2 separate regions of the Homo sapiens genome follow, and region 1 is linked to region 2. Evidence: fine-mapped expression QTL. A gene starts in region 2. The other region holds a variant in brackets. All regions are shown on one strand. Distances are from middle to middle. Region 1 overlaps MR1 (major histocompatibility complex, class I-related). Region 2 holds the start of MR1 (major histocompatibility complex, class I-related).

Region 1 (15,912 bases), 24 kb after region 2:
CTGTGGTTCTGTAAGAGGAAATGGCAGCTGGGGCGTGGAGGCCTGGGTACAGCTGAGTAGGGAGCACTCGTGTGGGGCTAAATGAATGCAGTTGAAGGATCTGGATCATCTGGGACCCTACATGTCTTCCTTCTTTGCCTCCTTTCCAGGGACGCACTCTCTGAGATATTTTCGCCTGGGCGTTTCGGATCCCATCCATGGGGTCCCTGAATTTATTTCGGTTGGGTACGTGGACTCGCACCCTATCACCACATATGACAGTGTCACTCGGCAGAAGGAGCCACGGGCCCCATGGATGGCAGAGAACCTCGCGCCTGATCACTGGGAGAGGTACACTCAGCTGCTGAGGGGCTGGCAGCAGATGTTCAAGGTGGAACTGAAGCGCCTACAGAGGCACTACAATCACTCAGGTGTGCATGCGGCAGAGACAGACGCTTCCCCCATCCCACCCCAACCCGCAGAGACCCCTGGGCTGGCCTCCAATAAGCGGATGCTGAATTGCACCTGCTGTAGCTTTGGCAAAGCCTGAGGAATCAGGTTGGTGGAGTTCAGGGCCTCCCATCTGCCTGTGCATCTTCTGGACTGTCCCTCTCTCCCCCAGGAGCACTCTGTCATTTGCCCCACCCACTCTTCCCCATCTCTGTATCCGTATCTGCATCCCATTTCCACTCAGGCTTCTGATATGCATCTCCTTTTCCATTCTAAATTTGCCCATTCTGCGTCTCACTTCCTGGTAGTCAGGCCTAGTGACTTGCTTATGAGTATCGACAGTAACTTTCCCAGGGGTATTTCTGGCTCCTGCATCTCTCTCCCTCCTCCACTGCAGTCAGAATAGCCACAAAGTTTATCAGTCATTCCCATTACAGGATAACTCCCCAAGGCGGGAATTAGCACACTCCTTTGACAGGCAGTAGGTACTTCACAGATACCTGCTGACAGGTGGGCTTCCATAAGGGGGACCTCCTGGGGACTCAGCGATGCCATGGCAGGCCTGGGGGGTGACATAATGTAGACCAAAGGATGCTTCCAGCCATGCCCCTGCTCCCAGCACTTGAGAGCCCACCTCTGTCTCTGTGTGGACCCCTCTGGGCTTCTGTGTGTGTTCCAGGGTCTCACACTTACCAGAGAATGATTGGCTGTGAGCTGCTGGAGGATGGAAGCACCACAGGATTTCTGCAGTATGCATATGACGGGCAGGATTTCCTGATCTTCAATAAAGACACCCTCTCCTGGCTGGCTGTAGATAATGTGGCTCACACCATCAAGCAGGCATGGGAGGCCAATCAGCATGAGTTGCTGTATCAAAAGAATTGGCTGGAAGAAGAATGTATTGCCTGGCTAAAGAGATTCCTGGAGTATGGGAAAGACACCCTACAAAGAACAGGTAAAGAGAAAGAGAAGGCCTCATTCCCACATTGCCTGAACAACTGTTTTTATACGTAACTCTTTTAATCTAGGTTATATCCACTGTATCCTGAAAGCCATCTCTTTAGTTGGCCTATTGTGATCTCATGGCTAGAGCCCCCACGAAAACTTTCCCTGGTTACTTTTGAGCAGCATCTTGACAAGATTTGACAGTTCCCCTTGTCTTGACAGAGTGGAGTACCTCCAAGGGCACCTTGTTTTTAGGGATCTATTGAGGCAAATTCTTCCATTCCGTCAATGATAAGCTGGGAAATTCTTTGGGAGATAGAGCAATTCTTACAAACTGTTTAGTTAACAAAGGGCTCACACACCACCAGTAGGAGTAAAAATCTGGATTTACCAAGACAAACAGAAGGTCTCTGCTTTACTAAAGGATTAATGAGGTTGGGCATGATGGCTCATGCCTGTAATCCTAGCACTTTGGGAGGCTGAGGCAGGAGGATTGCTTAAGGCCAGGAGTTTAAGACTGGCCTGGGTAACATTGTGAGACCCTGTCTCTATTAAAAAAAAAATTAGCTGAGCATGGTGGCACATGACTGTAGTCCCAGATACTCAGGAGGCTGAGGTGGGAGGATCTCTTGAGCCTGGAAGGTCAAGGCTGCAGTGAGCCATGATCATGATCAGCCTGGGTCACAGAGCAAGACCCTATTTAAAAAAAAAAAAAAGTATTAATGATAAGATTCCTTTCAGCAAAGAGCTCCTCTTATACCTTAAAGATATGATTCAGTTGGTCAACTTTTAGTTCATATAGAACTTTTCATGTATGGTCTTGTTATTCAAAATTAATCACACCTGTATGATGCTACAGGAAACTCCTAGATACAATGTGTGTGGGAAGAGTATGGGAAGCTCCCCTCTCCAGGCCTCTGTCTACATTCAGTGTCCTAATGGATTTTCAACCTTTTGGTCAAAACACACTCCTAAAAAAACAAACAAAAAAAAAAAAGAAAAGAAAAAACACATTCCTAGAAAAGGATCTTGGATTAATTTCTTACAGGCCCTATCAAAAAGCACAGTCCCTCCTAGTAGCATTTATTTTACTTTTAATGTTGGAAAGCCTTTTTCTACTACCAAATATCATGCCTCGGTAAAGAGACAAGGAAAGCATTGTTGGAGTGAAGGCTCTTCTCCGTATTGGGTTGGCCGATGATAAGGTGGGGGTCAGGAGGCAAGTCAGAGATGAGCAGGAAGCAGTCCCCCCCAGATAGTGCCTTTGGTCTCGGTATGGCTGTTTGACCCAATTTCAGCAAGAAACATTAAGGACAGGACTGTATGGAAAATTAAGAGTAGTCATGAGGAAGCAAGGTCACACGTGGGTACTTCTTTGGTGTCACTGCTGGAGCCCTTCTATGATATCAGTTTCTTCGAAGGCACAACCATGGCATGATCTACTACATATGTTTGTACCTGATGGCAGTCATCAAAATGCCAGCGCAAGTACACAAGGCAATTCGGAGCCAAAACTGAGTGGGGATGGCTGTGTTATTTACGTGCACTAAACACAGAAATGAGAACAAGGAGTTCTAATCTCCAATCTATTGCTGACTTACTTATTGGGAACAGTCACTTACACATTTTATGGGTCAGTTTTCCTTGACACATAAAGGTATTTCAAAGGTTACTAGTAAACAACCCCAGCACACTTTCCAAACAGTCAAAGCTGTATGACTTTCCCCCCTTAGAGGATGGAGCATGGGCCAACTCCACATTCTTCACTACCTAGCACCTTGCCATCATGGAAGGTATACGTAAATACGTTTGTTGTTGATGAACCTGAGTTCTGGGTCATTCTTAGCTTTAGAAGTTTCCTGCAATAAAGAAAAATTAGGAAAGCCAGTTGCCAAGTTCTAATATTATATGCTCAGTACATAAGGCACTTTGATTTAACTTTAGCTTCTTCTTCCTAGAGCCCCCACTGGTCAGAGTAAATCGCAAAGAAACTTTTCCAGGGGTTACAGCTCTCTTCTGCAAAGCTCATGGCTTTTACCCCCCAGAAATTTACATGACATGGATGAAAAACGGGGAAGAAATTGTCCAAGAAATTGATTATGGAGACATTCTTCCCAGTGGGGATGGAACCTATCAGGCGTGGGCATCAATTGAGCTTGATCCTCAGAGCAGCAACCTTTACTCCTGTCATGTGGAGCACTGCGGTGTCCACATGGTTCTTCAGGTCCCCCAGGGTAAGGACGGGGATCGTGGCTGTCTAGGGAGAGAGCCTGGAGAAAGGGGTGAGCAGGAAACCATGCTCGCTGCCAGGGAGGGGAGGATAGATCACTGCCTCACTCAGTGTGCCTTAGAATGGGTCTTTTAAATAAGTGGTTCTCACACTTTTTGGAACCAGGACGCCTTCATACTATTAAAAAATTATTGAGGACCCCAGAGAGCTTTTGCTGATGTGGGTTATATCTATTGCTATTTACTACATTACAAATTAAAAATTTAAAAATTAAACACGAATGGGTGCAGTGGCTCATGCCTGTAATCCCAGCACTTTGGGAGGCTGAGGCAGGTGGATCACTTGAGGTCAGGAGTTCGAGACCAGCCTGGCCAACATGGTGAAACCCCATCTCTACTAAAAATACAAAAATTAGCCAGGCATGGTGGCGCATGCCTGTAATCCCAGCTCCTGGAGGCTGAGGCAGGAGAATCGCTTGAACCTGGGAGGTGGAGGTTGCAGTGAGCCGAGATCGCACCACTACACTCCAGCCTGTGCGAAGGGAGCAAGACTCCCTCTCAAAAAAACAAAAAAACAAAAAACAAAAAAACACAACCCAGGCGCAGTGGCTCACTCCTGTAATGCCAGTACTTTGGGAGGCTGACGCGAGTGAACTGCTTGAGCCCAGGAGTTCAAGACCAGCCTGGGCAACATACTGAGATCTCATCTCTACAAAAAACACAACAATTAGCTGGGCATGATGGCATGCGCCTGTAGTCCCAGCTACTGAGGAGGCTAAGGTGGGAGGATCGCTTGAGCCCAGGAGGTTGAGGCTGCAGTGAGCTATAATGGCACCACTGCACTTCCACCTGGACGACAGAGTGAGACGCTGTCTCAAAAAAAAAAAAAAAATTAAACACAAGAAAACACAAGCAGATATTCCATTAGTGGTCAGATTGATGAGTGAGAAGCAACAGTAAGGAAAATGGTGTTGGGTTTCCTGATGATCACAGGGACAAAAGTCCCAGAAAGTTAACACAGAAGGGAAAGGGGACTTGTGGATTTTTTCTCATTTGCTTGCTTTCAGAATCAGAAACTATCCCTCTTGTGATGAAAGCTGTCTCTGGGTCCATTGTCCTTGTCATTGTGCTGGCTGGAGTTGGTGTTCTAGTCTGGAGAAGAAGGCCCCGAGGTGAGAGGCACATGGAAGGGATCCAGGGGGCTGCAGACTCTCCTGCATCTCTCCAGTTTTATTTTCTGCACCTGCTGCTCCCTCCTCCATTCAGAAATGGCTTGGCTCTCAGGCTGGGATCACAGAAGGACCTGGGACAACCCTCCCACCATGTAGGGGACACAAAGCATGGATAAAGCTTACAGGGAGAGTGGTCTCTTTTCATAGGTGATGCCTGACATCAACAAACTAGTACATCTGTCCAGGGGAACTGTCCCCCTAGAAGTTGGGTCAGAGAAGATATGGGGATCTTGATTTGTCTTTTTCCAAACCATCTTTTTATTATTAATTACTATTGACTTCTGGGGCAGTGTCCTTTGTTTCAAGACTTCAGTCAGTTTTCCCATTTTGACCACCATTCTTTCATCCCAAGCATATGAAAGTCCTTTTCCTTGTAAATTCATTATTCAAAACATTAAATATGTAAGAGTAGATACCTTCAGGGAATGGGACTTAGAGTAAGGAAAAGGGGAGGAGAAGTAGGAGATATATAGGCTCTTGATAATGTGGAATAACATAAATTCATTCAGTAAGTATACATTAATGACCTACTGTGCTCCAGGCACTGTACTGGTTGCTGGGATATAACAATGAACAAGACAGATACGATCCCTGTTTTCATAGAGCTTACAATAGAGCCTGGTAAGGTTATCTCCTGGCTCTGGCTTCACTAATTGCTCAAATTGATCACAGGATAGTACCGATGAGACCATGCTTTGAACCCAAAGTGGACCAGAAGTTTGGTTTTCCTTCATAGACATAGACCTCAACTCCAATTCAGGTGATAACTGTACAAAAGCATGTTGTTAGATCAAAGTAAAACCAACCCTTTTACTAGAAAATCAGCTCAGAGGCCGGGCGTGGTGGCTTACAACTTGTAATCCCAGCACTTTGAGAGGCCGAGGCAGGCGGATCACTTGAGGTCAGGAGTTCGAGATCAGCCTGGCCAACATGGTGAAACCCTGCCTCTACTGAAAATATTAAAAAAAAAAAAATTAGCTGGGCGTGGTGGCACATGCCTGTAATCTCAGCTACTCAGGAGGCTGAGACAGGAGAATCGCTTGAACCTGGGAGGCGGAGGTTGCCGTGAGCAAAGATCGCTCCATTGCACTCCAGCCTGGGCAGCAAGAGCGAGACTCTGTCTCAAAAAAGAAAAAAGAAAAGAAAAGAAAAGAAAATCAGCTCAGAGAGTTAATGGGTTGTTAATGTTTTCTTTATAGATAAAGTACAGCACTAATCCTAATCCAATAAATGATAGTGAAACAAACAAAAAATTTTTTTACAATGACATCCCTCTCTCAATAATTATACAGACTGTGAGTTCCTGCTTTTTATCTTATAGAGTTTACAAATTTGAGCTAAAGTTTGTCAAGTACTAAGAGAATCTTGACAAAGCAAGCTAAAACTGTCGATGCCTGTTTCTCAGATTTTGCTGAACACTGCATACTTTATTTTTGAGCTGTGAGGAAACATTCTTGTAATCTGACTAAAAACCCCTTTCCTTTCAGAGCAAAATGGAGCCATCTACCTTCCAACACCAGATCGATGATTGCAGATCCCTCTTTTCCAGTTCTCCTTCCTCTAGGAGCCATGTTATCCTCTGTCCCCCATAGAGTCAAGCCTAGTGCTTGAAGGTCCTGACGACACCCACAACATACATGAGAGTAATGGGATTGAGCATTTATGGCAGCAACAGAGGAGCCACAAAATGTTCTTTGTTCTTTGGCTCCAAAAAGACTGTCAGCTTTCAGTCTCTTTTGATGGACTGTTTTATCAGAGTTGACTTTAAATACAGCTTGTCTCATGACACAACGCTTCCCTACATTCTATTTGTCAATGATGATTTGCAACTAGTTGGAGATTCTCAGAGCAGGAAGGAATCTTTTCAACCAGAGCAGGAACTGTCTTCTGCAATGCCTTGGACTTGAGCCTCCAGCCTCCACTTGAACACCATGTGAAGGGAACCTCAGTACTTCATAAAATGGCCTTTCTCATTCATCTTTCATGGGAACATTTATTGTACAAGCGCTTTGAATATCATGGGCACCATGACTGTGACCCTACAGGTAGGATTGGATCACTCCATGAGAGTAGCCGGCAGGTTTCTACAATGGCCTGGGAATGGACTGATTATTTTTATACATTTTCTGGCCTGAGAGAAAGCCAAAGTCCCCTGCTGTTCACAGCAACCCTGCCTGGGAGCTTGGAATCTTGGTAATCTGCCCGGTTGGATCTATGGAGGTAGTCTCACCCTTTTTGTCTTTTGTGGGAAATTAAGAGAAATAATTATCAGACATATCATCACCTCCAGTGGAACTACAGAGACCTGGACCCAGCTGCACTATTTTAATGTAAAAATAACAGTATGGCCAGGTGCAGTGGCTCACGCCTGTAATCCCATCACTTTGAGCAGCCAAGGCGGGCGGATCACGAGGTCAGGAGATTAAGACCATCCTGGCCAATATGGTGAAACCCTGTCTCTACTAAAATACAAAAAATTAGCTGGGCATGGTGTTGCGTGCCTGTAGTCCCAGCTACTTGGGAGGCTGAGACAGGGGAATTGCTTGAACCCGGGAGGCAGAGATTGCAGTGAGCCGAGATCACGCCACTGCACTCCAGCCTGGCGACAGAGTGAGACTCTATCTCA[A/AAATAAT]AATAATAATAATAATAATAATAATAATAATAATAATAATAACAGTATATTTGGTGTCAGGAGAGGGCTCAATTCTCATTTCTGCCTTTCCTGTGCTGGCTCATGGTAGCTGGGCATGACTTGCCTTCCTACATAGGTTGTCTTCATACATATGCACTGGGAATCAATAAAAGCCCATGGTGAGAATGAACATCCCCTTAATGTTCCTTACTATCCCCAACCCCTGAGGCCTCACCTACTGCCCTGCCATGTGGAGCTACTTGCCCTGGGGCTGCCAGTCACACATTCCTCGGTCCTACTTCTCTGACCCCGTTTGACTCTGCACCTGAGCCCTAATGCTTACTTCAGTGACCTGAACTTTGACAAGTGGCTTTTGTCCTGCACCTCAGGTTTGACCTCTGCTCTCCCTTGACCTTGACTGTGACATTTGACCTTTGGCTTTAATCATTACAGCCTCAGATAAAGGTACCTTCAGCCCGGGCACAGTGGCTCACGCCTGTAATCCTAGCACTTTGGGAGGCTGAGGCAGGCGGATTCCCTGAGCTCAGGAGTTCAAGACCAGCCTGGGCAACACGGTGAAACCCTGTCTCTACTAAAATACAAATAATTAGCTGGGCATGGTGGCATGTGCCTATAGTCCCAGCTACTTGGGAGGCTAAGGCAGGAGAATCACTTGAATCTATAAGGCAGAGGTGGCAGTGAGCCGAGATCACACCACTGCACTCCAGCCTGGGCAACGGAGCAAGACTCTGTCTCCAAAAAAAAAAAGAAAGATACCCTCAGTGTGCCAGGCCTCTAAGAGCTCACCTGCCAGGCTTCCTCCTTGCTCCACTGTCCCATGTAATTCCATATATGAAGCTACCACTGTACATCTCTCTTTTCCGGTGCCTGTTGAGTTGCATAGAAGCACAGTTGTGTTTATTTTGTTTTTAGGGTTGCCATGGGCAATTTCCGTGCCACTTTTAAGCAGTGTTGCACTGTGAAGAGAATGTAGGCAAGTTTATTTCTGGAATGGTTTCTTCTTACAATCAGAATAGTTAGGATGTAATATATTTTTGGGTGGGCATTTAAAGTGAAAAGGTACATATTTACATAGACACAGGTGATAATGTATCTATGTAAATGCCTTTTGATTCTGCAACTGCAGGATACTCTCATCAAAGACACAGATAAAAAGCCTCTGTGTTTCCAAGGCCTTGCCCTACACCTAACACATAATATGTCCAAATGGATGAAGAGGAGGCAAGGACAAGGATGTGATGACAAAACATTCTGTTATGCACTTGTAGCATTTATGTTTCTTCCTGGGGGATTTTATAATACTAAAAGAATCATAATATAAAGAGATGATTAAAAAAAAAATACTGCCGGGCACGGTGGCTCATGCCTGTAATCCCAGCATTTTGGGAGGCCGAGGTGGGCAGATCACCTGAGGTCGGGAGTTCGAGACCAGCCTGACCAACATGGAGAAACCCTGTCTCTACCAAACATACAAAATTAGCCGGGGATGGTGGCGCATGCCTATAATCCCAGCTACTCGGGAGTCTGAGGCAGAAGAACCGCTTGAACCCGGGAGGCAGAGGTTGTGGTGAGCCGAGATCGCGCCATCGCACTCTAGCCTGGGCAACAAGAGTGAAACTCCATCTCAAAAAAATAAAAATAAAATAAGTAAGTAATACCTAAAATTCTGCAACCTTCATTTTACTATAGATGGTTGAAGATTATATTACTTCTTAATTGTTTTAGCCTTGTTATTGCTTCATTACTTCATGGTTGTTGAGTACAGATGCTCAGTAATCATAACCTATGAAATATTTGACACCATGATCTAAACATTAAAAACAAATAACTGTGCTATTGCCACAGCTATGTTTTGGCTTTGAATTTTCTTTACTGAATATTTTGGATCAAGAACACTAGATGAGAAACCTGTTCAACTCTGTTCTTTTTTTTTTTTTTAACTCCACTGTATTTATTACCTGTTTTTGTTTTTTTTGTTTGTTTGTTTTTGATGTGCATATAGACCAAGATGTGGTAAATTTAAATGGCAGATGTTTTTGATGTGGTACATTTAAGGGAGAGAAAGCAGTTTAAAGAGCAGGGTGAAAAATCCAACAAGACTCCATCGAGAGTTTCTGAGCTCTCCCATCAGGGGCCAGTCCTCCTTTCCTCTCTCCTCTTACTCCCATGATTTCCAAGTTGTGATCCTTTCCTTATTTCTGAGGAATGACTTGGTTTCTCCTCTTCTTTTTTTGGCCTGAGAGAAGATGTTTTTGCACTTGTAGCTATGAGGAACAGATTGTCCACTAGGGAGGCCAGCTGATCATTTTCTGCCAGAGTCACACAGAGCAGTCACACCTTATTTTGAAAACCACTGTCTGGGGTCTTTGTCCTCACATATGCAGGTCTAGTGTCCCCACAAAGTGATCAGATGGATATATAAAGTGGAGTGCCAATGTATTAATTTACTGTGAGAAACACAATTGCTAAGTGGGTCAGATATCTGTCTCAGCTGGTCAGTACACCTTCCAGCAGGAAAATCTACATAAGAACAACTAAATCACAATCTGTAGAGTGCTTGATGACCCCAGAATTGGTGCAAGGGGACACATTCTTGCTTGTTAGCACCTGCTCTCTGGAGTTTGCTATTTTCTCACACACAGTGTATTAGTTCACAGAATGTTCTCCAAGGAGGACAGGGGGCTTTGCCCATAGCCATGTGCTGTGGGCAGCAGAGCTAGGAAGAAGCACAGGCATCTCCCAGCCCAGGTGTTTCCCACTTAACTGCATTGCCCTTTTCATCTTTTTTTTTTCCCCAATAGCTTCAGGACATTCAGTACATTGTGCTTTTTAGAGGTTGATGATTCCACTGCCTGAGCTGCCTTCACCTCTCTTTCTTTGGAAATTGCCATCTTTGAGCATTGTATGTCTCTGTAACATCTCTGCATCTCCTTTTCACTCTGGCCTCCCTTTCTCCATTGTCCTTCTAGCTTCTGGTTGCCCCAAACCCCACAGACTGTGTAACAAAACCCAAAACCTATTGGTTTAAAACAATACCCATTTTATTTTCTTTCATAGTTTCTATGGGTCAGGAATTTGGATATGGCTTGGGTAAGCAGTTCTGGCTTCTCATGGAGTTGGAGGCAAGTGGTGGCTGGAACAGAAATGGGGCAGCCAGGGGTGGTGGCCAGGCATCAGCTACATCTCCTCCATGTAGTCTCAGGAACTCTCCATGTAATCTCTCTGTGTGGGTTGGGCTTCCTCACAACATGGTGGCCTCAGGGCAGTCACTGCTTACATGGCAGCTAGCTTCCCTCAGAGTGAGTATCCCAAGAGATCACAGTCAAAGTGCATAGCATTTATATAATCTAATCTTGGAAGTCACAAAATGTCATTCTTGTGATACTCTCATTGGTGAAGAAGTCATAAAATCCTGCTCAGGTTCAAAAAGAGGGTGTATAGAACCCAACACTCAATAGGAAGATTGTCAGAGTTACATTGTAAGAAGAGCATGTAGTTGGGAGATATCATTGTGGCCATTTTGGGAAAGATGCAACATGTCACAATGTCATGTTCTCCATCGTCTCCCCGTTCCACCTTGTACTGGTTTCCAAGGGTAGTCGTTTAAAAGTACCACAAAAACTGGGTGGCTTGGAACAACAGAAATTTATTGTTTCACAGTTCTGGAGGCCAGAAGTTCAAAATGAAGTGTTGGCAGAAACATGCTGCCTCTAAAGGGACTGGGAAAGGATCTGTTCCAGGCTTCCCTCCTATCTTCTGGTTGTTCCTTGCCTTCTGGCTGCGTAACTCTAGTCTTCATTTGGTGTTCTCCCTGCATGCATGGCTTTGTGTCCAAATTTCCTTTTTTCATGAGGCCATCAGTCATACTGGATTAGGGACCCACTCTACTACTGCAGGATGACCTCACCTTCCCAAATTACATCTGCAACAACCCTATTTCCAAAGAAGGCCACATTCTGAGGTACTGGGGGTTATAACTTCAACATGAATTTTTTGGAGGAAACAATTCAACTCCTAACACATCTCTACCCAACCTCTGTAGGTTCCCTCAATCCACCAAAATTTTTTGGCTCCACTGGATTATCTAGCAGTTAGGAAACCAAGATCATTAAATGAATTCACCGCAACTACAGTGAGACTGACTACCTTAGCTTACCTCTGTGAAAGGAGTTAAGCCAAAGGAATCTGTGGAATTTTGGAGAGTTTGGGAGCATTTGGGGGCAGGAGGCAAATGTTCTTCCTTTAAATCACAACACTTAGTTCTCTTCCATTTATAAGACTCACCCCTCCATCCCAACCCCTGCACCACAGGACAAGGAAGTGTTCTTGGTCTTCAACTTTCATCCCTGATGGTGAAAGCAGTTGCTCCTGACCTATTTGCCCACCAGCTTCTCCTCTGGAGCCTGAGGCTTCTGATGCCTGCCTGGCTGGTTCTCAGTAAGAAGGTCAAGTTCAACCAGAGGGGAGATGCTGATGCCTTTCAGTACTTAAATATGAGTTCAGACCCTGGGGCCTGGACATAAGATTTGGGGTCCCCTGGATATAAGATTTCTGAAAACACTCAGACTGTGGAGACCCCTGCTGAGGGAGAAGCCCCAAACTGTGGCTTCAGGGGAATGCACCAAGGCTCTCATTGAGGCCACCTTCTCCAACAAGCTCCCCTCCTGCTTCCCCATGGCTGGCATGGCTGAGGAAAAAGGACACTGAGCACAGCCCGTGCATGAGCGGCTTGCCATGCAACAGGATAAAACCCATAATGCCACTCAGCAAGCCTTGGTTGTAAATCTAGTTTGATTACATTTGTAATCAAATGATGGCCATTTGTTCTGTTTCTGGTTTGTGAACCAACTGAAGACATAAGCAGGGCCTCAGCTAACCCACAAATAGCACATGTGTGCAAACTGGAAAAATGAACCCTTCTTCTGGGAGGACGCCAGCCCAGGCCAGGTCACCCGGCTTGGCCAGCAGAACACAGAGTAGATTTTGGTCCCGTTTGTTCCCCAGTGGGGTATCTATCCTTGTGCAGGGCACAAGCCTACATGGTGGCTCTGGTCATATCATTAGAAAATAGACAGAAATGGGCTGCACACCAGAATGAATGAATTGAATTGAAAGGGAGGAGTGATGGTGGAAAAAAAAACAAGTCAATTCATTTAGACTGGTAGAACCAGAACCACTGTGTAGTACATCCAAACGGTTAAAATTCCCTGGAAGATGTTACATAATCCTATCATGGTGTTTATTTATGGAAATCTATTTTAAAAATTTTATGTAATACTGCACAGTCTGTTTGCATGATGCCTTGTACGTAGTAGCAACTCAGTAAATACTTTTTGAATGAACTAGTATAGTATTTTAATTAGCTAGTCTTCATGTACTGGTACAAAAGAACAGTGTCATCTTACAGCTGAAGTCATAGAGGGGAAATATCCCACTCAAGATCATATAACATTCCAGGTACTCAGGATGAATGGTTTGAGGACTGGTCTGAATTCTTCAAAGGTTTCAGCTGTATTAACATTCTCCATCTAATAAACTTTATCTTGTCATTGCATTGTCTGTGAGATTAGTGATCTGAAACATTCCATCAATACCCCCACCCCACCCAACACATACATATTAAAGACAAAGATAGAATTCGGAGGTTCTTATGGGAGGTACTGTTTTTCTCGAAGGCTATGAGAAGAGGTGCTGAGAAATGAGTTCTCAGCCATCTTGGGGGCCCAAATATCTGAAACCTTCCAGAAATGTAACTAGTCTGAATTTGCTTTTCTGTCACCATTTGGGTATTTGGTTAATGAAAGTTCTTAACATGCAAATTCCACCCACTCTTACCAATGCCCTGAGCTGGGAAGCACCCTGAGCACTCTTACCACACCCTGAGCTGTTGCTTTTCCTCTCCGCCTTGCCCCCACTCCGTGTTGGCTGCACCAGCAGAGGCTTCTGCATTTGCCCCTGGGCGGGAGTTGGGTATGAAGGTCTGGGCCAGAAGGTTCTGAGTCCCTAAGCTGAGCTGCTGGGTGGCAGCTGGAAGGTCAGGCTGGCTGAAGCCCTGGCGAGGTGACACTGGGTCTGAGGCAGGTGCAGTGGCAGCGGCCAGACCTCTGAGGACACAAATGGGCTAGAGTGTGGGAACAACCGGGGAAACAACCCGGGGGTGGGAAGGGAGTAGGAAGGGGGGAAACAGCTTCTGAGAGGAGGCTACAGGATGAAATGGGAAGCCACGAAAATAAGGAAGTGAAACCAAGGGAGAAATAAGAGTGCCACCCAAGCCGAGGCCGTCCTGGCCTTTCTTCCTTTCTGAGGCATCAGCGCAGATTCTAAGTTTACTTGAACTAACCGAAAGCTCTGTTGTTTTCTGAGCAACATCACAGTGGCATAAATAGAGAATTCCTGGAACACACTGGCAAGACACACGCTCTAGAAGGTGACAATTCTGGGGAAATCTGAAGGGCTGGAATAATAAAAAGTCAAACATTTGGCATCCCATCAGCTGCTGAAACACAACCCTCTCACGTACTTTAAAATACCCAACACATGCACTCTGCATATTACTCACGAAACAGCTACGAATGCACAGTCCCTGTGTTACACACAACAGGAAGTTGCCAAACCAGATGTAACCCACCAAGGCCGAGCACATGGGCAGCCCTTCACCTTACTGTTAAAAGACTGAATGGTCATTGGTCCCTGAGGATCCCTGAAGAAGACAGGCAAGCTGTTCTAATCCAATTTAGGTCTTTGCAACTGAAATTGAGATCAAATTTCAAAGATCTGTAAACTAGTGCAGCTTCACAGACTTGAAATTAGTCTACAAGATGACATGTTTCTGGGCCTAATGATGACATTTTTAGAGACTGCCCCCAGCCACAAGGAATTATTCGTTTTTTCTGTGTGGCATGGTATACACCATATTTTCATTCAAGCCACAGAGTTTTTTTTACCCCAGTTTCTTATTAATAATCTGCCACAAATACTGATATTTAAATCAAATTCTTATGGCCTTCATTAGTTAATCAACCATTCATGAAATATATGCGCCATAAGGCCTGACACTTCAGTGCCTGGCACATAGTAGGCACTCAGTACATATGCATATTGACAAAATGAACTGCTGCTCCTACAAGCCAGACTCTGTAGGCAACACAGCACAATGATGTTCTGAAAATTAGCAAGTACAAAAATGGCCCAGACATATGCTTATAGAAAAATCAAGCTCACATCACAGAAAATAATTTTAGAGATTGTAATCTAGAATGCATTTCTATAAAACAGTCCCTGGGTTTTCTGCTAACAGAAGAAATACAACTCTGGCTGGGGGCACGGTAGCTTACACCTGTAATCCCAGCACTTTGGGAGGCCAAGGCGGGCAGATCACTTGAGGTCAGGAGTTCGAGACCAGCCTGGGCAACATGGTGAAACCCCGTCTCTACTAAAAATACAAAAAAATTAGCTGGGTGTGGTTGCTGGTGCCTATAATCCCAGCTACTTGGGAGGGTGAGGCAGGAGAATCACTTGAACCTGGGAGGCAGAGGTTGCAGTGAGCCAAGATTGCACCATTGCACTCCAGCCTGGGCGACAAGAGCGAAACTCTGTCTCAAAAAAAAAAAAAAAAAAAAAAAAAAAAGAAAAGAAAGAAAGAAATACAACTCTGACAGTGAGCTTTCATAGTAATACTGAAGACACAGGTTGAATAAAACTTTCAAGTGAGATGGGAGGGCCTGCACATAAATATGCCATGAAACAAAGGACATGGGGAGGATGAAGGGCTCAGCACTGCCTCCTTCCCTGCAGCCGCTGGGCTGGGCTAAGAGGACCCATAGGCAGTGGCGATGGCGACAGCAAGGAACTCAGAGATGTTCAGTGAGACAGAGGAACTTCTAATCCTCTAGTTTCCTTTTGTCTTCCTGATAGCCTATCCTCAGAGAAATAATTCCCTTACTAAACGCCTAAGTGCTTTTCAGCTCTGCCACTCAACTGACACTTAGCTATTCTGTGTTGGTATTTATCTGTTTCTGCTCGGCTTATCTCCCTGGCTGGACTATAAACCCCTTAAGGGCACAATGTGAATTCTGTGTCCTTCACTTAGTATCAGGGTGATCTTAAGTTGTTTAACTTCTCTGAGCCTCATTTTTATAAAACCCGGGGCTAGTCAATACCTGTCTTCCAGTGTCAAAGTGGGGATTAAAGGAGATGTGTGTGTGCAAGCATATTGCAAAGAAATGGCATCTGGGATGTGTCTTCCTCTACGTGCTCTCCAGGGACTGCTCCCCATGTCCCATATAATCGCAGCCACCATTTATGGGTGCTTACTATGCACTGGGTACTTCACATATATTACTTCTATTCCTCATAACAACGTTGGCAGCAGGTATTATTATTATTATTTTGTTGAAGTTCAGATAAATTGTATTTCTTGACAAGGTTATA
Region 2 (15,912 bases):
ATGAGGTGATGTGTGAAAAGTGCTTAAAACAGTGCCTGACACATGTTGTGCTCCTACTGTGTGCTAAGCACTGAGACACAGGCATGAACAAGGCTTGGTTCTTGCCTTCAAGGAACTGTCAGACTGGTGGGAGAGACAGACTGGTGGGAGAGACACACAGTGAGAGAAGGGCACAGGTTGCCATAGAAACACAGCGACAAGATACCAGTATATTTGTGTGTTTTCGGGGCTGGGGCAGGGGGTTCCTAAGCAGTGACTAGAAGCAGCCAGGAGAAGGGGGCCATGTTGCTGGAGTAGAAGGAAAAGGATGGGGGCAGCAGGAGCTAAGCCTGGAGGTGGACAGGGTCAGATTATCAGGGCCCTTGTTTGTAATGTTCAGAATAGTGGACGCTTCCTATGGACAGTTCCCCATGGGGACTGAGGGAATTGACAGGGTCAGATTGGCATTTGAGACAGATGCTTCAGTGGCTAGGAGGTTATGGTCCAGAGGAGGGATGAGGGTATCCTGAGCTGGGCTTGTGACAACTAAGGTGGAGAAGAGTGATGCATTTGAGACATACTTTAGAGGCAAAGTTAGTATACTTGGTGACTGATTGGTTCAGGGTATGGGGGAATTGATGAAAGAAGAGGGAGGAAGGCTTCTGGGGTTGTAAATGGGTAGTGTTGGTTCCAACCATCAAGAAAGAGAACACAAGAGGAGGATTTGATTTAGGGTGAATGTAAATTAGCTGTTAGCATGTCATTTATCCCCACCAAACAGTAAACTCCTGGAGGGACAGGATACTATGTTAATGTTATTATCACCTAAGTGCCTGACACGGCCTCTTATTATCTGTTCCATGAATTTCTTAATTGGACCACATATGACAGGCCAGAGTTTTATAAGTAGTAATAGAAGATAGAGGACAGAGGCTTGGGTTCCCATAATTAGGGGATTAGAAAAAGCACCAACAATGGAGATAGTGGAGTGTCAAGATATAAAATGTGTGTATGTGTGTGTGTGTGTGTAGGTGTTCCTTTCTTTAATGTGTCACCCTCCTTTACCCTCTCTCAAACTAGACCTTGGCCTCCACTGCCCACAAGGAAAGGGAAGCTATGGCTAAAATGCAAGGAGAAACAAAGGAGGTTCTTTCTTTCTTTCTTTTTTTTTTTTTTCATTTAATAGGACCCACGTCCTGGCATAAACAATAGGTTGGGAAGAATACTCAGCAAAAACCCATCTCTTCCCACACCCCCACCCCTACCCCACCCCCAACCCAAAAGAATAATTTAAATTTCTCAGGGAATAAAAAATCAAAACAGTGGTTGTCTTGGGGGACAGAGTTTGACTGGGAAGGGAAACTTTCTTGGGTACTAGAAATGCTCTGTATCTTGACGGAGTGTGTGTTACATGAGAGTATCATTTGTCAGAATTCCTCAAACCGAAACTCTTAATTGGACTTAACTTCTGTTCATTTTTCTGGGGGAGGTTGACATGCCAACTCTGAGCTTTCTGTAGAGTTCTGAGTGGGCAGCCAGGAGAACCTCTGGTTCCTGAGTGAGTCTCCAAAGTTAGGAGAGTGAATGAGGAAGGGAGCACACTGGGTCCTGCAATGCATCTTCTGCAGAAATAAGGAGATGGCAACACAGAGAATAAGGCACAGGCAGCCAAATGAGCTGAGGATCAGAAAGGAGCCAACCATATCACTGGGGATGCCAGGATAGACCTGAGAGGGATTGCAGTGGGTAGCCACCCCCTGCCCCTGGAAGCTGCGGGAATGCCATGACACCCCTACAAGGGGATCTCCCCTACTCTGAAATAATGACATTCAGCCTGCTCCTTCACTAGCCTGTTATAAGGAACAACTGGATCATATATGGGAATAATTTTTTATTTTTTAAATTTTTTATTTTTTAAATTTATGAGGCCGGACATGGTGGCTCACACCTGTAATCCCAGCACTTTGGGAGGCCAAGGCGGGCAGATCACAAGGTCAAGAGATCGAGACCATCCTGGCCAACATGGTGAAACCCCATCTCTACTAAAAATACAAAAATTAGCTGGGCTTGGTGGTGCGTGCCTGTAGTCCCAGCTACTTGGGAGGCCGAGGCAGGAGAATCACTTGAACCCAGGAGGCAGGGGTTGCAGTGAGCCAAGATCACGCCACTGCCCTCCAGCCTGGCGACAGAGCGAGACTCCATCTCAAAAAAAAAAAAAAATTTAATTGTGGTAAAATACACATAACATAAAATTTACCATCTTAACCATATTTAAGTGTACAATTCAGTAGTGTTAAATATATTTGCCTTGTTGTGCAACCAATGTCCAGAACTCTTTTCATCTTGCAGAACTGAAACTCTATACCCATTAAACAACTCCCCATTCTCCCCCAACAATCTCTGGCAACCACCATTCTACTGTGTGTCTCTATGAATTTTACTACTCTGGGTACCTCACATAAGTGGAATCATACAGGATCTGTCTTTTTATGATTTGCTTCTTTCAGTTAGCATGATATCTTCAAGGTTCATTCATTCATTCTACATATTGCAGAATTTCCTTCCTTTGTAAGCCTAATATTCCATTGTATATATACCACATTGTGCTTGTCCATTCATCCATCAGTGGACGACACTTGGCTTTCTTTCATCTTTTGGCTATAATGAATAATGCTGCTATGAACGCTGGTGTACAAATATCTCTTTGAGACCCTGCTTTCCATTATTTTGGATATATACCCAGAAGTGGAACTGCTGGATATGGTAATTCTATTTTAAATTTTTTTGAAGAACAGTCATATTGTTTTCCATTTTACATTCCTGCTAAAAGACACACGCATTCCAATTTCTTCATATCTTCATCAACACTTGTTATTTTCTGGGTTTTCTTTTCCCTTATAGCAGTTGTACTAATAGGTGTGAGGTGGTATCTCATTATGGTTTTGATTCACATTTCTTTAATAATTAGTGATGTTAAGCACCTATTCGTGTGCTTATTGGCCATTTGTATATCTTTTTTGGGGGGTGGGGAGAAATGTCTATTCAAGTCCTTTGCCCATTTTTGATTGAGTTGTTTTGTTTTTGTTGAGTTCACCCTAAATCCTTCTTGAAACAAGGTAAAGAAAGGGAGAAAAGTGTTAACATAGATATAGGATATCATACTCTTCATCATTATCCAACCTTTTAGAAACCCTGATATACATGTACATATTCCAGAACATTCCACTTATGTTAAGTTCCATTGATCTGGCTATGACTGTCTATGTTTCCTACCTCCAACCACAGAAAATATCCATACACATATCCAAAACACACTGGCCATGATTTATTTCCTCTTCCTGTTTGTTACCAACACCTCCACCACTGTCACCCTCTACACACTGATTTAAAATAAACAAGGAGGAATTCCAGTCAATTTACATATTCAGCACTAAGGAATGATGGAGAATTTGTGGAACATCCATTTGGTGGTCATTAGAAATGTTGTTTAAAAGTATGTAATGACATAGGAATGGCTTGAGTAAAAACAGCAAGACACAAAATTATACATATGATACAATTTCAGCTCTGTTCTTTCTTATACATTAAAATGTTTTGGTACATAGAAAATTTTTACACGTAGGAAAAAAGAAATCTATTTAAAGTTTGTCAACTACTACAGTGAAATATTTACTTGGATAGTCAGAAATCCAAAAAGTTTTTTAAAAAGAAGAGAAAAAGTAATAAAAGAGAAGTGAAAAGCCAAGTGACCACATACGAAAAAGTACATCAAAAGTTAGCAGTTTTCAGCCTGAGCAACATGGCAAAACCCCATCTCTACAAAAAAAAAATACAAAAATTAGCCAAGTGTAGTGGCTTATGCCTATGGTCCCAGCTACTCGTGAGGGTGAGGTGGGAGGATCACTTGAGCCAGGAGGCAGAAGTTGTAGTGAGCCATATTCACGCCACTGCACTCCAGCCTAGGCGACAGTGAGACCCTGTCTCAAAAAAATAAATAAATAAATAAATAAATAACAGTTTTAAATCCTGTTTAGAATAAGGCAAGTTAGGAGGGTCTGAATGAATGGAAATTGGTGAGTACTAAAAAGCTGAAATACGTTATTGGAATTCAGTGAATTTCTTGACAAGACGGTGGATTTGAACCACTATAGGAAGGGGAGGTATGTTCTTTACCATCCTTTATGAATGTGACTGTGTATAAGGAAAGAAAAATCAATCTGTGTTGGTAAACTGGCTCATTGCAATAATAGTACTAGTGATTGCTAATATTTACATACTATGTACCAGGCATTGTGCTAAGTGACCGATGTGGTTGGGCTGTGTACCCAACCAAATCTCATCTTGAATTCTCATGTGTTGTGGTGGGAGGGACCTGGTGGGAGGTAATTGAATAATGGAGGTAGGTCTTTCCCGTGCTGTTCTCATGATAGCGAATAAGTCTCATGAAATCTGGCAGTATTATAAGGTGGAGTTTCCCTACACAAGCTCCTGTCTGCCTGCTGCCATCCACATAAGATGTGGCTTACTCTTCCTTGCCTTCAGCCATGATTGTGAGGCCTCCCCAGCTATGTGGAACTGTAAGTCCAATAAACCTCTTTCTTTTGTAAATTGCCCAGTCTTGGGTATGTATTTGTCAGCAGTGTGAAAACAAATACAGTGACACACATGCATTATCTTCAGAAGCTCCAGAATCCCCATATGGGGCAGGTTTTAGAATGTAATTTGGTTGGACAGCAGGGCTAGGGGACTTGATGTGGCATGGGAGACCCCTGTCTTTTCTTTTTTTTTTTTTGAGATGGAGTCTCACTCTGTCGCCCATGCTAGAGTGCAGTGGTGCGATCTCTGCTCACTGCAAGCTCTGCCTCCCAGGTTCACACCATTCTCCTGCCTCAGCCTCCCGAGTAGCTGGGACTACAGGCGACCACCACCACGCCCGGCTAATTTTTTGTATTTTTAGTAGAGACGGGGTTTCACCATGTTATCCAGGCTGGTCTCGATCTCCTGACCTCATGATCTGCCCACCTTGGCCTCCCAAAGTGCTGGGATTACAGGCGTGAGCCACTGCGCCTGGCCTCTTTTCTTAAATTATAGGTTTATTTGGGATTACTTAAGACAGCTGATGGCCATTATGCGTGTGTAGTAAAAGTACTCTAATGCCCCAACAAGTGACAAGTCACTTCTTGGTTCCACCACTGCTGATTTCATTGAATCCTCACAATAATCCTGTAAGGCAGAATTGGTTATTACCTCCATTTTCTATGAGAAATCCCAGACTTAGAGAAGTTAATAATTTGGTCAAAGGTCACATAGGTAGGAAATGTCAGAGCCTCATTTGAAAATAAGTTTGACTCCTGAACCCATGTTCTTTGCTACAGTATTCTACTCCCATTTGTACAAGGACTAGCCTTGGCCAAAAATTGGCAAATGGATTTTACCTACCCACAGAAAAGGGCTCAAATCAAACTCGACACAGACACAGACACAGACACACACACACACACACACACACACACACACACTTCTACTGAATTAAAAAAGAAATAGCCAAGGGGAAACTACTGATTAAATATAATAAAATATATTATGTTGAAAACAACATTATTTAACAAACAAGACCCTTTTGCTAACTTGATAATTCATCATTTGGTTTTTAAGGATGAATTGCACTAACTGCAAATGAGTCAGATTCCTCAGAGGGGCCTTAAAATACATATAATAAATCAGGTATTAAAAAGCCAAACACATAAAGGGATTTATAATGAACAGGATAAGCACAACCCACTCTGAAAAGTGCGGCCTGAGATTTAAGTTTAGACTATTGCTCAGAGGTGAGGCTTGTTTTTCCACAAAGAGAATGCGAGGGATTCTCCCTACCTCAGTGCCTCCCAGCTTAGTGGGGCAGTCTTACCTGTCCTTGAAGATCTTGGCATAATTGAATCTATTAAAAATTTTAAGGACTATTAAAGCTATGCTATTAAAAACTGCATATTAATATTGGAAAATATAAATTTGAAAAGAATTTACAAAATACTATTAGGACGTAAAACCCTTTTTTGGTAAAATGAACAAATAAAGGTATGCTTATATGCAGACATATGTAGTCAGCAAAACCACTGAAAAGAAATACACTAAAATATGTTAACAGCAAATTTTTTCCTTTCTTCCTCCCTCCTTCTCTCTCTCCTTCCTTCCTTCCTTCCCTTCTTTCTTTCTGTTGCCATGGTTGTAGTACAGTGGCGTCTCAGCTCACTGCAGCCTTGACCTCCCTGGCTCAAGCAATCCTCCCACCTCAGCCACCTAAGTAGCTGAGACTACAGGCGCATGCACCACACCTGGCTAATTTTTTGTATTTTTAGTACAGATAGGGGTTTCACCATGTTGCCCAGGCTGGTCTTGAACTCCTGGGCTCAAGCAATTTGCCCACGTCAGCCTCCCAAAGTTGGGATTACAGGTGTGAGCCACCATGCCCGGCCAACAGCAATTTTTTCTGATGGGTGATTTTTATCTTATCACTCTCTGGGTTTTTTATATGTATTTGCCCTGTACTCTGGATTAAATTTACTAATTTGCAATTAGAATACAATGACTTAAAAAATGAAAGACATCGGTCAGGTGTGGTGGCTCACGCCTGTAATCCCAGCACTTTGGGAGGCCAAGGTGGGTGGATCCTGAGGTCAGGAGTTCAAGACCAGCCTGGCCAACATGGGAAAACCCCATCTCTACTAAAAAGACAAAAATTAGCTGGGTGTGTAATCCCAGCTACTCAGGAGGCTGAGTCAGGAGAATTGCTTGAACCTGGGAGGCGGAGGTTGCAGTGAGCCGAGATGGCACCACTGCACTTCAGCCTAGGCGACAGAGTGAGACTCTGTCTCAAAAAAAAGAAAGACATCGTTGACATACCTACATTTTTTTTTTTTTTTGAGATGGAGCCTTGCTCTGTCACCCAGGCTGGAGTGCAGTGGCACAATCTCAGCTCACTGCAACCTCTACCTCCTGGGTTCACACCATTCTCCTGCCTCAGCCTCCCGAGTAGCTGGGACTACAGGCACTCACCACCACGCCTGGCTAATTTTTTGTATTTTTAGTAGAGACAGGGTTTCACCATGTTCCAGGATGGTCTCGATCTCCTGACCTCGTGATCTGCCCGCCTCGGCCTCCCAAAGTGCTGGGATTACAGGCGTGAGCCACCGCGCCCGGCCTCATACCTACTTTTTAATGTCAGTACAGCAGGTTATGGTATGGAATGCATTTTGGAACAAGATATTAACAAAAATTCAAAGGAAAAAATACATGGCCATGGAATTCCAGTGCTGAGAGACATTTGGGAATATTGGGGGAGTTTTCCAAAAGAGAAATCCAGGTGACTGTATTTGTTAAATGAGTAACAAAAGGAAAAACAATGTAAAGAAACAGAAAGGAAAGGAAGAGAGAAATACAAAGATCTGAGAAGAGAAGGTGCCAGGGGCCGCTGAGAGATTGCCAAATGTTAATTTCATTATTTGGCTTCTTATTTTATTCTGGGTAAAGGTAGACCTATTAGTTTCCTGTTGCTGCTATAACAAATTACCACCAACTTAGTGGCCTCGAACAATGCAAATTTATTCTTTCAAAGTTCTGGAGGACAGAAGTCCAAAAATGTGTCCTATCAGCTGAAATCAAAGTGTTGTGTTCCTTCTGGAGGCTCTAAGGAGAATCTGTTCCTTCTCTTTTCTAGTTCTAGAGGCCATCTGCGTTCCTTGGCTCATGTCCTTCTTTCAGCAATGGCATCATCACTCTGACCTTTGCTTCCATTGTCACATCTCCTTGACTCTGACCCTTTTGCCTCCCTCTAATAAGGCCCCTCTGATTACACTGGGTCCACCAGATAATCCAGGATAGCTCTCTGTCTCAAGATCCTTAATTTAATCATATCTGCCAAGGGTTTTGTTTTGTTTTATTTTGTTTTTGCCATTTAAGGTAATATATCCACAGGTTCTGGCAATTAGGTTGTGGACATCTTTGGGGCGACAATTCTCAACCTACCATACAACCGGTACATAAGGTTCTACTACCTACTAAATGCATCATAAACAGAACTTCTGATCCTTCAACAACTCTGTGAAATATATGACAGGATTTGCTTTTAAAGTTGAAGAAATCAGGCCTTGGTGCAATTTGGGATTCTGCCCATGGTCAAATAGTGGGGAGGCAAACCCAGGTCCCTGAACCCAGCTCAAGCCTGCCTGCCTCATGGCCATGCCTCCATTCACCTCTCCCCTTCATGTCTACTTCCTCTTTCCTGTCTGGGCCTGTTCCCTAGCTCCCTGGACAAGCTTAAGCTGCTGTTTTCCAGCTTGTCATGTGCTCCTTATGACAGTGTAGCCACAGCTTGATCTTGGGGATTGCTGATTGAGCAAGCTGAGTGGCTGCCCCTCAGAATCTTCTGTAGGCCTTTCTCTTGCCTTCTTTTATTCAGTAAGTGTTTTGAGCTTATTGTGCTGGGTGCTAGAGTAGCAGGGAGGACAGACCTAAGTTGAAGATTACGGGACAATCTAAGTGACACCTGCTATCTCAGACAGAGACTTCAGCATCATAGGGAGCCAGAGCAGGGAGTTCCAAGCCGTGGGAACTGTGACTCTTTCTTACTGACCCTTAAGCAAAATTCTAAGCTCCAGGGAAGCAGAGGCAGCAGCTTGAGCTCCCTGATTGACCAGATATGATTAATCTTTGTTTCTCTGTGCTTTGAACATGACTATGCTCCATAAATATTTAAAAATTGGGAATAGGGTGAAGATAGATACACCAAAAGGAGCAAGCAGTGTCTGAAACCAGCAAAGACTTAAAAGTTACCGAAGAAGGTGTTCATGCTTTCATTTTATCTTTTTTTTTTAACCTAGCAACTGATGACACTGCATATCTTCCCCTGTTCTTATTGGGAGAAGGCCTTGTGTGTCACCAAGAGGTTCTCAGAAGGGACCTGTCAGTTTTTGGTTAAAAGAACCCGGAAAGAGAAGGACTATGGGGGAACTGATGGCGTTCCTGTTACCTCTCATCATTGTGTTAATGGTGAAGCACAGCGATTCCCGTGAGTATCCCACGTCCTCTTCTCTCCTAACTCCAAAGTCGAGGCAGCCTAGAAGGCACAGCTTTTCTTCCTAAAACTTGTGGTGAAAAATATAGAAGCCAGGGGCAGAAACGTGTATGTATTACACTCAGACTCCAGGAGCAATGGATTGCCTGAACAGTTTCCCAGTTCATATTTGTAGGATTTTGATGTCACCACCTTCTGAGGGAGGGGGAGCCGTTCTAGAAAGACTCTGGAACTTCCTCACTTTCCCTCTGAGCATGGCCTCCTTTCTTTTCTGCTCATATTTTTTCTTTTACTTTTGTTTCTCCTCTTTTCTAACTTCCAGAGTCTCATGAGGATGTAGTCAGAGTTTCAGGGGCATTAACAGTGGAGTAGATCCATTGTTCAGGTTTATTTATGTTTTTCCTCAACACAAGCCCTACCTGTAATAAAAGATCCAAGAAAGATAAAACCATGGCTCTGGGTTTGTTTACTGACTGTGAGAAGTATTAATCAAGTAGAAGGGAGAGTTTTTCATTATTCGGGGAGCTCAAGTCACTGGGGAAGCAAATGCCTTCTGTTGCCTCAAATAGGGGAAAGGGCCCATGGGCTAGAACCACCAGGCTTCTCTGCCCTAATCACTTGCTCCCTGGGCTGAGGACTGGTACTGGTGGGCAGTGTCCAGAACTTAGACTTGGCCACCACCATAGGTGTGACTGATGAACATGAGAGGAAGGAGTTCTTTCAAATCACCCATGCACATAGAGAGTGGAATGACTGACCATGGAGATTTGGAAGGGCGAGGGGGGTGGATGATTAGAAATTACTTAATGGGTACAATGTGTGTTACTTGGGTGATGGATACCTTAAAGCCCCAACTTGACCACTACACAATCTATGCTATAACAAAATTGCATGTGTACATCATAAATTTATACAAATAAAAAAATTTTAAATCATATGGCTGGGAGTGGTGGCTCACACCTGTAATCCTAGCACGTTGAGAGGCCGAGGCAGACGGATCGCTTGAGGTCAGGAGTTTGAAACCAGCTTGGCCATCATAGTGAAACCCCATCTCACTAAAAATACAAAAAATTAGCTCGGCACACCCATCTCTACTAAAAATACAAAAAATTAGCTGTGCACAGTGCGCACCTGTGATCCCAGCTACTCGGGAGACTGAGGCAGGAGAATCACTTGAACCCAGGAGGCGGAGGTTGCAGTGAGCCGAGATCATGCCACTGCACTCTAGCCTGGGTGACAGAGTGAGACTCCATCTCAAAAAAAAAAAATCCATATATTAATTGTTCAAATATTGATTGATGGCCTACTATGTGCCAGGCACTTTGGGGGATATGGCAGCGAACAAGACAAACATAGTCTCTGCTTCCATGAAAATTTAATCCAGAAAGTGTCATCATTTATGGGAAAGATTGGGGGTGAGGGTAAGAGGCAGAAGATGAAAGAGGAAAGGAGGAGAGAGGCAAAGGGTGATATTTTTGGAAATAATAAAGCTTATATATTACCTGCATGTGATTCTCAAAGAACTCTCCAATAATATGGAATAATATTCCTTAAACATATTATCTCCTATGACAATCTCACTGACTATTTGTAGTAGGTGAAGAAAATATCCCCATTTAAAGATGAGGCCTAGATTTTTCTCTAGGCCTAGAGAGTGACCACGCTCACATAAGGAGCAACCTGAAGGAGACTGCAGATCTTCTGGCCCTCGGTCCAGGGCTGTTCCACAATGTCATTGCTCCTTTGGGTGTGAAGACTTGTCACTTTGATAATTGGGGGGACAGGAAATAAAACAAGTAAGTTATAAAGGCAAGGGAAGGTCACTTGGTGCTGGCTGTTCTCCTTCTGACTCCTTAGAGTGCATCCTTCTCTGTTCTGTTCTGTGTCCTTGAGGCTGACTGCTAGACTGCATCACCTAGACTCTCTTGCAAGCTGATTTCTGCTTGGGTTCATACAATGGGAGACACTGAAAGGAGAGATGTCAGAGAGCAGGGAGGAAAGAGAGGCTGGGATACATCTTTCTTGCTCCTTCCCCACTTTCTGTGATGTCTTTGGCAGTAGCTATGTTCTTCTGTAATGCTGTCTTCCCTGAATAACCCCTTCTTCATGGTTCTAGCTCCCATTGGGCTTCAGTAACGGTATTTGCTATTCTTATCTCTTAAGCCCTAGGGGTGATAATGGCTTCCCATAGTTGTTAGCCTGCAGATGCCCATCATCCTTGTTTGTTCCGTTAACCTTGACCATATCTCTGCAAGGAGTCCCTTCATTAAGGTCTCCTCACATGACCCATCTGGCTTGAAGGCTGTTTCCTGCTAGGACCCTAACTGAACATTCCTGGGCTTTGAGGGATATTGGCTGGAAAAGGATATGAGATTATGAAAGAAGACTCAGTCTACTTGATATTTATGCCTAGTGCTAGCCCTGAGTGGGAGCTATATACCAGTAATAGATGGGGAAACACGGGGAAGAGATACTGCAGGGTTGTGGGTCATTACTCCAGGAAATGTCAACATAACTCCAATATCACTTTCAGTGTGTTGCTTTCATCAACTCCACAGCCTGCAGTTGACTCCTCCTTCCTTTGTGCTCCCATGGCTCCTGTTCACAGTTCTGTAATTTTCCATTTACAAAAATCTTCTCTTTGAGGCTCTCCTTAAAGACAGAAAGAGATATCTTCATTTTTTTCTTATTTCTCTGGTATACCTAGTGCCCAACAGGCACTTAGTAAATGTTTGCTGAGTGAATTTATGTTCGGAGGTAATGTCCCTAAGAAATCACAGTTATTTGACTGGGAGCCATAGAGAGCTCGGGCAGTAATAACGACTGCAAATTCAAAACTGTGGCTTACTGTAGTTGCAGGATTTGTATTAAAAAGGTGTTTCATGCTTTTACAACTCATCTTGTTCTTCATTTCAGCCTGTGTGAAACTGTGAATTGGCGATATGGGTGGGTGTAATCAGACTGGGGGCTGGCATGAGATTTCTCATGCATTGCCATATGTGATTTGTATGTTTCATCTCGACATAACCAAGGTCAGTCTCTTGATATTACTCATAATTTTATGGCTGTATAAATCTGCTATATCAATCTACTTCATGAATGGTGGAGTCCTTCACAGGCGAGGTCTGATGATGGATAAGCTCCCTAAGCTGCCAACTGGGTTACTGTTAAAAAACAGACTTGCATATTATCTGCTTAGAAGTGACCTTGAGTTCAAAGAGTTAACATGAGAAAATATGGGCTTTTTCTTTAGACTTTATTAGATAGACTTCAGTCTGTTTCCATGGAGCTGTTGCCAAGGTATATGCCATAGAAATTTCTCCAAGACAATGTTTCACTCCCCTAAGGCCCTCTTCTTAATTGGCATTGAATCTATCTAAACTTGAGAAATTCAACTAATTTGTAGATTTTTCTTTTGACTAGTTGAAATATCTGTCTATTCTCACTTGACCCCAATCCTCTTACCCCACAGTATTGCTAAGAGCTGGAGGAAAGGAGCCTAAGTTAAAGATCAAACACATGACTCTTTGAACACTTATTTTAGGGAACTCAAATTGAGAAAGATGACAAAGGATGTTTTTTCTGATGTATGAATTTATATTTATCGGGGAAAATCTTTCAAGAGTATACATATTAAGTCACATTTTGTTATAACTTCAAAGGATCATTTTAGAAAAATAAAATTTATAAAATCGGGATTTTCTGGGAAACATAAGACATATAGTCATCATTGTGTACAGAGAGTACTGAGGGAAAAAAGACACCAGAGCTCATTCATTCGTTTTCCAAAACTCCACATAGTCCTACAGGGCTCACTTTCTTACTCCATTCACATCTCTGCTCAAATGCCACCTGCTGTGGTCCCTCTATCTAAAAGATCAGGCCTTCTCCTCTCCACACTCTCTTTTCTCTGCTTTACTTTTCTTCATAATCTTTATCTCCACCTGACCTTGTATTATATATGTATTTATTGCCAATCTCCTGTCTAGAAATTATCTCACAGGGCTGGGACTTTCATGTGTTCATTGCTCTGTTTCCAGCAGCTAGGACTGTGCTTATTGGACATTCAGAAAAGAATATACCTATATGAAGTGAGACATTGGCAACCTTCAAAAGGGTAGCCTCAGAAGAGTAGCTCACAAGCCAAACTTGTCACAGTCGCCACTTTTATGCTCTAAGTTCCTGTAGTTAGTTAGACATGTCATTAGGAGAGGGGACTAATGGTTCTTGCTGCACATAGAACCATCCATGAACATGGCCTGAGATGTGTCCAAAGGTCCCCTTAACTAAAAATATTGCCACCTACTTCTCCCCTCATTCCCACGATGCTCGAAATTCTAAAGAGTCATTCCCAGGAATCATAATCATTTTGACCTTATTAAGGCATTGGACTTCTTGAGAGAGCCAATAAATAATCAGACTGTGTTGACCTGGTTATCCAATCAGGACTCACGGCCACCTGTGTGTAGGAAGGTCTGGAGCCTGTGGCCCCAGGGACTGGGAAATCAGAGGCAGTGAGTCATCCTTGACACAAGGGGGCAGGAGAGAGCAGTGATAATCCAGGGGCTAGAAGCCTGGCCTGGAAAGCTTCCCCTACACTAGGGAGGGTTGGGTAGTCTCAAGGTAGAGGGACTTCCCATGGAGAGATCACAGTGTGATTCCTGGTTCCTTCACTTATGGATTCTGAGGATGATCTTGGGCAATTAATCTCTCTGCACCTATTTTCTTTTCTTTTTTTTTGAGATGGAGTTTTGCTCTTATTGCCCAGGCTGGAGTGCAATGGCGTGATCCCGGCTCACTACAACCTCCGCCTCCTGGGTTCAAGCGATTCTCCTGCCTCAGCCTCCCAAGTAGCTGGGATTACAGGCATGCGCCACCACACCCAGCTAATTTTTTGCATTTTTAGTAGGGACAGAGTTTCTCCGTGTTGGCAAGGCTGGTCTTGAACTCCTGACCTCAGGTGATCCGCCTGCCTTGGCCCCCCAAAGTGCTGGGATTACAGGCATGAGCCACCACACCCGGCCTCTCTGCACCTATTTTCTATCTGTGGGTTGGAATTATAAGACCTACCTCAAAAGTTTGTTAGAAGAATAAGTGAAACCCATGCTTATCAAGGGCTTAAAATGGTACCTAACACAAGGTATGTGCTCAATAAACAAATACAGTTGTGATGACTATGATTAAGATGCTGCTGCCCTTTATGCCTCATTGAAGGCCCATCTGATCTGCCACCTCCTTGGAACATTTCCCAGTGGATCCCTTCTCATGGGACCACGGTCTCTCTTCTCCTAGTGGCTGGAGCACTCCATTGGTACTCTTTTCTGGCGCTTGCTGCTTGTTGCCGTGTGTGGTGGAATTCATTTATTTGTTATGTGCTTTAGCTCCCCAATAATACTGTAAGTTCCTGGAGGAAAGAGCTGGTATTTGATTTGTTCTTCTCTTCCTAACATTGCCTCCAATTCCTTGTACATAGTAGACACTAAATAAATAATTGCCCCCATGAGGCCGGGCGCGGTGGCTCACGCCTGTAATCCCAACATTTTGGGAGGCTGAGGTGGGTGGATCACCTGAGGTCATGAGTTCGAGACCAGCCTGACCAACATGGTGAAACCCTGTCTCTACTAAAAATACAAAAATTAGCTGAGTGTAGTGGTGGGCGCCTATAATCCCAACTACTCTGGAGGCTGAGGCAGGAGAATTGCTTGAACCCAGGAGGCAGAGGTTGCAGTGAGCCAAGATCATGCCACTGCACTCCAGCCTGGGTGTCAGAGCGAGACTCCATCTCAAAAAAAAAAAAAAAAGAAAAAAGAAAAGAAAAATTGCCCTCATGGATGAAGTGAAAACACTTCATCAATTATTTTACAATCCAGTGATTTTCACAGCCTTTTGTAAGAATGGCCCAACTGGTTAATGGACAGGTTAAAGGGAACATGATTTAGAACTATCAAGTAGCCATTGCACCTAGCCTAAGAGTTTTTGGTTGTGTCGTTCGGGTTCTCCAGCACTATCTGTCAGAAGCTGATGAGACTGGGCAGGAGATGCCTTTTGAGAAGTAGCTTGACTGGTTTAGACAGAATACCAAATTCTAAATTGTATATTTCAGCTTAATAAGTGAGTTGATGCTGATGATCTATCTGTTCATGGAAAGGGAGAGAGAGACTTAATTTCAAAATTATTAGGGCGAGAAAAGAGAAATGGAAGATTAGATCAAATGATATGAAATTGCCATTTTTATAGGTCAAAAATGGTAAAATATTGGCCTTTCCAAATGATTCGAAATCTGATTATGTCTGCAACAAATCCTGGTGGGATATAAATTATCACAAGTTTTAATGTACTAGGAGAGAGAGGGTACCTGGACTTTTCCTCATCTTTTCTGTTGTGAGTTACTGACTGAACATGTGTCAATCAACTTCCCACCACAGCAGAGGTAACATTTTAAAGGCCCAGCTAAGGAGCAAGCATGACTTGTTCCTGTGGAGGCACCAGATGGGTAACTGGGCCCATGGCAAATGAAGAGGAAGGGACTGTGATGTCCTGGAGCAGAGCCACGCTGGGCTGAACCAGTGGTGGATGGGTGTGACTGAAAAAGCAAGTCCAGCCTTTAGGTGCCTGGACTTTGAAGTCAAGGCTGGCTGGTGGAGAACAACTGTTTCAAAACCAGGCATCAGAATTAGATTGAAGTTAAAAAAAAAAAAAACCCAGAAAGAAAGAAAGACACAGCCAGGCACGGTGGCTCATGTCTGTAATCCCAGCACTTTGGGAGGCCAAGGCAGGGGGAATCATGAGGTAGGAGTTCAAGACCAGCCTGGCCAACGTGGTGAAACCCCATCTCTACTAAAAATAAAAAAATTAGCTGGGTG

Evidence for each region. PIP is the estimated chance that this variant, and not a neighbour inherited with it, causes the effect.
Region 1: its variant is fine-mapped to the expression of MR1 in whole blood (INTERVAL, PIP above 0.99).

What each region holds. Positions count from the first base shown.
Region 1 is chr1:181,048,903-181,064,814 of GRCh38, forward strand. It overlaps MR1 (major histocompatibility complex, class I-related), which reads left to right. Exons shown (of 6, transcript NM_001385161.1): 2 at 150-410; 3 at 1,109-1,384; 4 at 3,333-3,608; 5 at 4,671-4,775; 6 at 6,323-13,036. The coding sequence ends at 6,363. Among named protein-coding and RNA genes, the nearest start is that of MR1, 23 kb to the left of the region's middle. RefSeq lists enhancers at 13,126-13,255, 13,896-13,945. The variant A/AAATAAT (reference allele first, on the strand shown) is at 7,462.
Region 2 is chr1:181,025,032-181,040,943 of GRCh38, forward strand. It overlaps MR1 (major histocompatibility complex, class I-related), which reads left to right and starts at 8,952. Exons shown (of 6, transcript NM_001385161.1): 1 at 8,952-9,043. The coding sequence starts at 8,977. RefSeq lists enhancers at 8,132-8,321, 8,522-8,621, 8,752-8,861.